2 separate regions of the Homo sapiens genome follow, and region 1 is linked to region 2. A link means that fine-mapping ties the variant in region 2 to the expression of a gene that starts in the linked region. Tissue or cell type: monocytes after interferon gamma. Region 2 holds a variant in brackets; the other region holds the start of a gene. All regions are shown on one strand. Distances are from middle to middle.

What was found. PIP is the estimated chance that this variant, and not a neighbour inherited with it, causes the effect.
Region 1: MAN1A1 starts here. The variant in region 2 is fine-mapped to the expression of MAN1A1 in monocytes after interferon gamma (Fairfax 2014, PIP 0.95).

Annotation. Positions count from the first base shown.
Region 1 is chr6:119,347,583-119,352,582 of GRCh38, reverse strand. MAN1A1 (mannosidase alpha class 1A member 1) reads left to right here and starts at 2,822. Exons shown (of 13, transcript NM_005907.4): 1 at 2,822-3,041; 2 at 3,296-4,120. The coding sequence starts at 3,518. RefSeq lists silencers at 2,262-2,901, 3,412-3,611, 3,672-3,791 and an enhancer at 4,002-4,351.
Region 2 is chr6:119,151,077-119,156,300 of GRCh38, reverse strand. No RefSeq gene overlaps it. Among named protein-coding and RNA genes, the nearest start is that of FAM184A, 75 kb to the right of the region's middle. The variant C/T (reference allele first, on the strand shown) is at 3,115.

The DNA.
Region 1 (5,000 bases), 200 kb before region 2:
TGGGGATTTCTTTGTAGTGTTTTGTGGTATCACTGATGATCAGGTTTTTAAAAAATTACTTGATTCAAAGATATAATCTTGAAACACAAAAATTTACAAATTATCAAAGAAATACACAAAAACATTAAGTATTGAAAAAGGAAAATGTAAGAATTAAGTTTGCAAGCAAACCTGCAAAAATTACAAGAGAGTTATACTTCAAAAGGACTGGCTGGCCAAATAAAAAAACATAGCAAGTATTTTTTTAAAAATCCCACAAAATTACTAAGGTTCTTAGGTTTACATTAGACCATCCATAATGAGAAACAGCAATTTCAGCACTATCATTGCATTCATAAAGATGGTGACATTACCTTCAGGTAGATGTGGCTAGGGAGTCTTGACTTAGGGGACAAAGTCAAGGTTTCATTACTTAAAAGACAAGAACCAATCACCTTTATTTTTATCTCAGGGTACAAAGTACTTTTTTCAATGGTAGAATGTCAAGTGCTTTGTAGTACTGAAATCAGAGGAAAGTGTCCGATTTTGCTTCTACAAAATGCACAATTTTACTTGTTGACTATTTTCTACTCCTCCCTTACCATGAGCACACAGGGCTTCATGTGATTATTTTAAAGAGGATGCATAATTCGATTGCTATGCCTCTTCAGATACCTTCTTTGTGAATTTTTCAAATTTGCTCTGGCCCAAATATTGGTGTTCCTATATAGTTCTTATCCCACCTAATGTACACAGACACCCTTTAATATGTACCTATAATCAACCACCCATGTTAACTTCTTGTTTAACATATTATCAAAGCCAGGCTGCAAGTATAACCCTGTCATTTAAGAAATACGGAAAATAAGAAAAAAATCTTAAAATAAGCTTCATGATGAACTTAAAAAGAATAGTTACTTTAAAAGATGTAGAAACAACATAGATAAATTTAAAGTTTTTAGGGGAAAAAATCCTTAAACCCACGTACTAAATTTTTAATATTTCCACTACAGAAGTTAAATGCCCAAACTGATTTGGTATCAAAATTAAAGTGTCAGAAATAGAATTAAGTTATAACTTTTATTTATCACCATTTTAACATATACTTAAAAGTGGAATTTATTGTTTTGCTGGAATACTTAATAACATTAATTTGAAATAAAGCTTCTAAATATTTCCGGGGCTATAATTCCATTCTTACAACATAATTTTTAAAATAATAAATCATTCCAAAAAAGGATGATCATAAAGAGATTAGCGTTTGGGGTAGTTAACCCAGTTCCTATTTATCTATCCATTCAAGAGGTAACTCAGTTTTAAGGATGTTGTTAGAAACATTATTTCACAGTGATTCAAACCTTTCAGCCTATGCACAACCTACAAATGCATAATCGTTTGAAATAAAAATTGCCTTTCCATCATTAAAGAAAAATCATCTTTGTTTTCTTTTTCAGTCCTTCTGAACTTATTACCCTGCTTGGATATGCTGCACTCTTCTGGACATAGAATTTCATAGCAGGTATCAAAATAACCAAGCCATAAAGCCAGCTTTATCAAACAATAATTTCCTATTAACAAGAACTTTGAGTGTATTACTCATTTTACACAAAACAAGTAGACGACAAATAATGATGGTTAAAATTAATAATTAAATGATTAAATGAAAACTAGTAAGGATTTCTGATTACTTTTCTACTTTCTCATACAGCTTAACACCTGGAAACAACTGTACTGGAGCCACCTTCCCGAAAGGTGCCAGCTGTTTCCTTTGTCTTAAGCACAAACAGAACTAATGTCACATTTCCAGAGAAGGGTAAGGATGAAATAAGGCGACTACAAACCAGCTTTCAGAAATGCGAAGTCAGTCAACGTTTTCCTCTCTGATAACCCCTTATTTGTGGAGCAACAGGAGAATTACAACACATTTTGGAAAATAATTTCTATTGGACCAACTCCTCACTTCGCTGGAAGTAGTCGGATCCAAGACTTAATTTCAACACAGTGTTCGACTTATTGCTTGAAGCTACCGCAGCATAAAACTCGTCTTCGAATGGAAAATTTGACCAACTTCTATGAGGTAAATGAATAGTGAAAGTACGGGTGGGCGGGAGAGACATACAAGTTTTTTCGGTTTTTTGTTTTTTGGGGGAAGAAAGGGCGCATACGAAAAAAGTCCTAAGCAAGCACAGAACTGTGTCTCTTAGGATGTAAAAGGATGTTATACCAGAGAGCTCAAAAGCTCCCAGGGTCACGGCTCCCCTAACCGAGGGACTTGGGGTTTCACTGCTACCAGGCACCCGGGGAACCCCGGCCTTGGATAAAAAGAGGGTAACTGGAGTAAAGCCGTGCTTCTGAACGACCCAGCGCCCAGGACCCCCTGCCAGACCCCGCCTTTCCCGGGACCCCCTCGGGAGCGCCCCCGACCGCCCCGCACGGGTCGGAGGAGGAGGCAGAGAGGTCCCGCGCGGACCCAGGCGCCTCCCGGGCCAGTCGAGGATCAACCACCCCGGGGACCCCTGCCGAGGCCAGCGCAGGATAAACTCCCCGACCCCGAACTCTGCCTGCCGCTTCTCGGCGCTGGGCCTCAGCCACGGGTTCGACCGTCCTCCTCACCGCGGCTCCCGCCTACCTCGCGCCTCCCGGCCCCGCGACCTCCCCGCCGCCGGCCGGGCCCCGCCGAGGCTGCGCTTCCCGTAAACTCCCCGCCCCGCGCATCCCCCTCCTCGCCTCGGCCCCGCCCCCGCGGGACCCTGGGCGGCGCGTGATTGGCCCGGCCGCGCCGTCACTCTCCGGCCGCGTCGCCTCCCTCGCTTTCCACCGCCCCAAGACCGGCAGTGAGATTAGTGCTCGCGGGGCCGCGGCGGAGTGTACCGTGCTGCTCTACTCGCTGCCATTCGCCCGCAGGTCGGCGCGCTCGCCCACCTGAGCCGCGCCGGGGCTGCGGGACCGTGGGACAGCGCGCTCAGCCCAGCCTAGGAAAGAGGCAGCAGTCTCAGCGCGGAGATGGGGAGCGGGCGAAGTTGACGAGTCTCCCGCCCACGCTGCGCCCCTCCTGCCCAGAGGTGCGCTGCCCCTCCCCGAGGTGCTCGCGCGCTGCCCTGACCCCTTCCTGCGCGGGACACCCCTCCCCTACCCACGGGACCTGATAACTTCACCCCAAGTCCAGAGAGTGGGCTGCGAGGGCGGTGCCCGGACTGGACAGGACTCTGCTTAAGGGGAGCGGTCCTGGAGGCTCGCCAGGAGTCGGAGGGCGGAGACCCGCTGGAAACTTTATCATCGCCGTAATTACTACGTTTTACTGTTTCTCTCCCCGCAGGGGCTGCAGCCAGCGGTCTGTCGCGCGTGCCTGTGTGCCCGAGGAGCCGCCCCGGGGAGAAGACCCGGCGCGGAGTTGTTCCCCCAGGGAGGATCCGCAGCCCAGCCGAGGGGGTCGGGCGGCCTGGCTACGCAGGACCCAGCCCCGCAGCCGCGGACTCCCAGCGGCGGCGAAGTTTGGCTGCTGAGCGGCGCGGCGCCGGACCACTGGACAGCGGGAGCGATGCCCGTGGGGGGCCTGTTGCCGCTCTTCAGCAGCCCCGCGGGCGGCGTCCTGGGCGGGGGGCTCGGCGGCGGCGGTGGCAGGAAGGGGTCGGGCCCCGCCGCCCTCCGCCTGACGGAGAAGTTCGTGCTGCTGCTGGTATTCAGCGCCTTCATCACGCTCTGCTTCGGGGCGATCTTCTTCCTGCCAGACTCCTCCAAGCTGCTCAGCGGGGTCCTGTTCCACTCCAGCCCCGCCTTGCAGCCGGCCGCCGACCACAAGCCCGGGCCCGGGGCGCGCGCCGAGGACGCGGCCGAGGGGCGAGCCCGGCGCCGCGAGGAGGGGGCACCCGGGGACCCGGAGGCCGCCCTGGAGGACAACTTGGCCAGGATCCGCGAAAACCACGAGCGGGCTCTCAGGGAAGCCAAGGAGACCCTGCAGAAGCTGCCCGAGGAGATCCAAAGAGACATCCTACTGGAGAAGAAGAAGGTGGCCCAGGACCAGCTGCGTGACAAGGCGCCGTTCAGAGGCCTGCCCCCGGTGGACTTCGTGCCCCCAATCGGGGTGGAGAGCCGGGAGCCCGCCGACGCCGCCATCCGCGAGAAAAGGGCAAAGATCAAAGAGGTGAGTGGGCCGCGCCAGAAATCCCTCCCGACCGGCCGTGTTTTTCAGGGAGAAACGGCAAGCCTTTGAAACTCTGAAGACTGCAACAATGCAATGTATGGGGAGATGGAGGTTTGCCCCTTCCACCAGGTGCTGTGTCAAAAGCTCTTTCTTTTCCTGTTTCCAATATAGTAGTAGATGTGTCCAGTAAGATCTAAGGTCAAATCTCGTTGCTTTTAATTTGCATGCTCTTGCTCTGGTGACCACAAGCCACACGAGGTGGGTATAAATACATGGGCAGGTAATACGCAAACCTCATTCTCTGGCCGCTACACGGTTAATCGCCCCACCAGTAACAGCGACGGCACTGATCAGCCCCCTGGTAAGGATTGGGGACGTGGCTTTAAAGTGAGTCTTCACGCGTGGTAAAGCTAGCCAGCATACCCCGGGTTCAGCTGTGTGGCCCTTGTCTGCCAGGTGGCATTCTGTGTGTACTTTCAGACTATAAAGGTGAAACCTGAGAACTTCCCATCATCGAGGGATACTATTGTTTACTTTTTTAAAAAATGAAAATATAAAAAGCCAGTCGGCTGCCTCTTGTATTTCTAATGCACAGCCAGAAATAGGGTATTCCATGTGATGCAACAGGTTTGCCTCCACAGCAGCACAATGGTGACAAAGTTAATCCAGGATAAACATGGACTTTGATACATCTTTCCTAATTTCCTTCTCGTAATTTTCAGTTAGAACTTGAAACATGTGATTAGGTCAGGACCAGCTTAAAGCTGAAGGGGGCCGTAAAAAGTCCTTTCAGGCTGTCATTTTCAAGATGAAGATCGAAGGGCCCAGAGCTCTAGAACCCGTTAGTGATGAGTCAGGACTTGAAGCCCGAGGTCCGAAC
Region 2 (5,224 bases):
GGGTGCTTGGTATTCTGACTCTCTTGACACTCTTCTGAGCCATGTGACCTTCTTGTGCTCCATCCTGTACCATCAGCTGTGTCTTACCATACAAGTCACTCAGCCTCTATCCCACTTGCTGCTGAAGACCATAACCCAGTGGCAGGAAGGATTTACACAGATGTCTTCCTGGTGCACAGCTGGTGTCTATAACCAGTTCTGGATTTTTCACCCTGTGGCAATTTCTACTTGGTTCAGTTAAAATCAATAGCCACTTAGGTTTTTAGATGAGAATGGACTGTCTCTAAATAAATATAAAGATATGCTGTTCCTCATGCTCTGGCATTGCTTATACAACATATTGGACTAAAGTATACCTATCTCCTCTTATTTTTCTTTTTTTACAAGGTCCTCAAACTCCTAGCCTAAGGGATCCTCCCATCTCAGCCTCCCAAAGTGCTGGTGAGCCATGTCACCTGGTCTCCCATCTCCTCTTCTAATGGGCTATTTTAGGCAGCAAGAAGAAAGGATGATCTGCTGCCCCACACTGTCTTTACAGAATCAGCGTGTCCTTGGTTGGGTGCGGTGGCTCACACCTGTAATCCCAGCAGTTTGGGAGGCTGAGGCAAGCAGATCGCCTGAGGTCAAGAGTTTGAGACCAGCCTAGCCAACATGGTGAAACCCCGTCTCCACTAAAAATACAAAACTTAGCCAGGTGTTGTGGCGCATGCCTGTAACCCCAGCTACTTAAGAGGCTGAGGCAGGAGAATTGCTTGAACCCAGGAGGCGGAGGTTGCAGTGAGCCGAGATCACATCACTGCACTTCAGCCTGGGGGACAGAGCGAGACTTTGTCACAAAAAAGAAAAAAAAAAAGAATCAGCATCTCCTTGAGTTTGTATTAGAGCCCAGAGTACTCTTCAGAGGGTTACCAGGGGCATAAACTCAGGGGGTCAGTTCAGTTAGGGCAATAGGTGTTCAGGATGACTGAAAGCTATATAAAAATGCATTTACCTTTTATCCCTTTCACCTAAAGAGTGCACGCCTGAATGGGCTCCATCAATCTCAGCTTTTTCAAAATCCTTCTTTGGCTGTCATGGGAATGTCCAGAGCACCCAGGTTTGGGGTCAGAGGGTGAGGAAGATAGAGGGTTGGATTATAAGCCTGGCTGTGTTAAAGATACAGTTCAGGAGCTGGTCACAAGGCTACAGTATTCAAAAGTATTGGGCCGCTATCTTTCAAGAAAGGACAATCGGCAAACTAACAGCTAGTAACCATGTTCACCTTTACCCAGTGTCACTAATGAAAGGCAGAAAATGCCAGTCTTTACTCAAATACACTGCCCTGAACATCTTAGGAGAAAAAGAAGAGTTTTTCAAATCTATTCTAAGCACATAGTCAGAAATGCAAGCAGGAATTTATATTCAAACTTTTCATTGCTAAATGTCTTTTATAATAGTGAAAAATTAAAACCAAACTACAGTGTAAGTAACAAGAGAAATAGCTAAAATTAAGGCAAATTGATAAGTCAGAATGTTGTATAGCCACTAAACAGGATGTTAAGCCAAAAAAGTTAATGATGTAACAAAATAGTCATGATTATGTAAAAAGCAGGATTTAAAATTATATATGCAATATAAGTTTTTAATTTGACATGAAAGGATTCTGCATCATTATTATTTTCTTCTGTGATTTCCTGATTTTCTGTAACATGTATTATTTGCATAATCTGGAAAAACTAAAAAGAAAACTAGGAATTTTAAGTGGAGAAGAAAGTCACTTCACATAGGATACATTAGATGTTTCTCCAAATAGGTAACTTCCTGACTGATTGAAAATATGATTTAATTTCCATGTACAATTCAATAATTGAACAAATATTTATTAAGTACCTACAATTTGCCAGGTAACTTATTTATCCGTGCAATAAATATTTACTGGAGACTGAGTAAGAGGTATAGGAAATAATAAAATAAATTCTCTTCCCTCTTGGAGCCAAGAATCTGCTAGGAAATGGTGATACTGAGATAAAAGACAAAACTCTCCCCTCAAGTAATGTCACAGTCCAGAAGGAGAGACAGACAAGTTAATAAAAAGTGATGCTGCCCAGCATCAGAGCTAATACTCTGCTAAGGGTATATTAGGGTGTAACCTAAAAAGATCTCCAAAGCGAAAAAGGAAGAGAGCCTGACAGGGGCTGTTGGTCAGCAGCCTAGTCCTCAGCTAGAATACAGGGAGACTTCTCCTGGTTTCTTTCTTTTGACTTCTATTAATTCCCTAATTCATTATCCCCTCCACCCAAGGGGTTTCAACTGTGTTCAAAATAGGTAACTTAGATACCACTTTAAATTAAAAACCAAAAAGATCTGAATTCCCCCTGTTCATACCCACCCCACCACTAAGCAGAAGAATCGGCCACCACCATTTCTTAAGAATACTAAGGAAATCGGGGTTTAACAGCAACAATGACAAAAAGGCCTAGAGACAAGGCAAAGAAAGTTGAGGAAAGAGCCAGCGTTTGTCTTCAGTCTCCACCTTTCCTTTCCACCTCCTAAATGGCTTTTAAACGTCTTCAGTGACACACTGATAAAATCCTACACTTGTGTATCACTTTGCACAGGAGAGTCTTATAGGGTTAGGGTCCCAGAGAGCCTAAATAGAATCTTGAGTCTGGTTTCATGTAATTCACGAGAGACTGGTGACCATTCCCTGCTCAGGTCTGTTTGCACATATTGATGTCTGTGGGAAATTGTTCTTGTTTTGTGCCTGCTGTTATTGTCACTGTTTGTTTGTATTGTGGCTGCAAGAAATAGAGAGATGCAAGGAGATGGAGAAGAGCAGTAAAGGAATGAGAAGAGTCTATGATCAACAAGCAGGGGACAAAAGTCAGGAGAAACTGTTTTTAATGAACATGTCACCTCATTGTACCTAAGTGCTGGTGGGGCTAAGGACATTCAAGTGCCACACATCATCTCTTAGAAGACCTACACTTCTTGGCCAGGTGCAGTGGCTCACACCTGTAATCCCAGCACTTTGGGAAACTGAGGTGGGTAAATCACCTGAGGTCAGGAGTTCAAGACCAGCCTGACCAACATGTTGAAACCCCGTCTCTACTAAAAATACAAAAATTAGCTGGG[C/T]GTGGTGGTGCATGCCTGTAATCCCAGCTATTCGGGAGGCTGAGGCAGGAGAATCACTTGAACCCGGGAGGTGGAGTTTGCAGTGAACCGAGATTGCGCCATTGCACTCCAGCCTGGTCAACAAGAGTGAAACTCCAACTCCAAAAAAAGAAAGAAAAAAAAAGACTTAAACTTCTCTCTGATCATGAAAAACCACAAAACAGAAAATCATATTTTCATGTATTTATTAATTCTCAGCTTTCCACCAAAGTTTTGATCTGCTGACCACAGACATCACTGTGACAACATTGAACTTTCAAGGATCTCAGAGTCATATTTAAAGCTTATTTACCAAAACTATGTGGCCCACCCCTCTCCAACATCTGAACATATTTTTCCTTAGTTTTGACTTTTTAGACTCTCTACTATTATGAGTAATTTCGTTGTTCCTGATTCCTTTATTTTATCTTATATTCTTTTCTTGTATGATGTCTGTGGTCAGAAGATCAAAACTTTGGTGGGAAGCTGAGAATTAATAAATACTTGAAAATATGATTTCCAACAATAGCTCCATGAAATAGGTATCCCATGTTGTGTCTCAGTTTTCCAGATGCAGAAGTTAAGGTGACGTGTCAAATTATCTACTGTTGTGTTTTGAGTCTTTTCATGTTAAAAGAGGGTGGTGCTTGCTAGAAAGAAGTGGATCACAACTTGGAATTTCTATAATTGGCGAGAGAGATCTTTGTCTTTCTCATATGCCCATAAGCCTAGTCCTGTCAGCTGATACCATCTTCTTCTTACTAATAAATTACCAGTCTGGCTAAGTAATGAAAAAAAAAATGATGGAAAAAGAACTGTCAGATGATGCAGTGTTTGCTCTGGGAAGTACCAGGGCCACAGAGAGGAGGACCAGTTACTGGAAGAAAAGAAAGAGAGATGGTGGAGAGCGCAGCAGTTTCAAATGAAAAATTAAATTAATTTTAAAATCTAATTTAAAGCAAAATAGAGCAGCAGATGTGGAGGGAGTTGAAACTCCTCCTTGAATTGTATCCCCTAAACTTTCCTGTTCTTTCATTCAGCCTGAACATCATCCTGTTTACACCAAATAGCAAAACTGGATTAATTAAGAAATAAAATACTCCAGACAGTTCATTTCTAGGGATGGTTTGTACACAGCATGTATGAGAGGAAGGAAATGCTTGAAATTTTAATTTCTCCAGAAAAAAAAGACCACCAAGGCTTCCTACCTCAAACTTTAAAAGCATATTTTCCTATAAAGCTGTCCTAATGATCTTTATGTCCCAGAATCAAGTATTAGTAAAATATGTATTTATTTTTGCAGCTTTTTTTTTTTTTTTTTTTTGGAGATGGAGTCTCACTCTTGTTGCACAAGCTGGAGTGCAGTGGCACTATCTCAGCTCACTGCAACATTTGCCTTCTGGGTTCCAGCAATTCTCCTGCCTCAGCCTCCTCAGTAGCTGGGATTACAGGCATGCGCCACCACACCCAGCTAATCTTTTTTTTTTTTTTTTTTTTTTTTTTTTTTTTGGATTTTAGTAGAGATGGGGTTTCCCCACGTGGCCCAGGCTGGTCTCCAACTCCTGAGCTCAGGCAATCCACCCGCCTCAGCCTCCCAAAGTGCTGGGATTACAGGCGTGAGCCACCGCACCTGGCCCACAGCTCATTTATTCTAACACCGAATACTTATTATTGAACCCTTCTATGAGTCAGGAGCTGTACAGGCTTCTCTGCTGTGTAGGTGGTTTTAGAGATTCTGATGGCTTACAGACAGTTAGGATGCCAAGATCCAAACTCAAGTTACAGGCCAGATAGGTTCTGCAAGACTTCTGCACAGTTGTCATCAGTGAGACAGTTCATATCAAGTAATTAAAGAATAAAACTGTTTCCTTTGTGCTGCTGCAGAACAAGTGTTAAAAAAAAAAAGCAGCCACCAAGGAGCCCTGCTATGAATCATGTGCCTTTCATGAGGTGAACTTCCCCTCCCCAGAGATGCGTGAACAGCAAATCAGGAATCCACGTCCCCACACTCGGTACTGCTGGTTTGTCTTGTGTTAGCCATGGATCTGACATCTGCCAAAACACCTCGCAATGTAATCACGGGTGTTGTCTG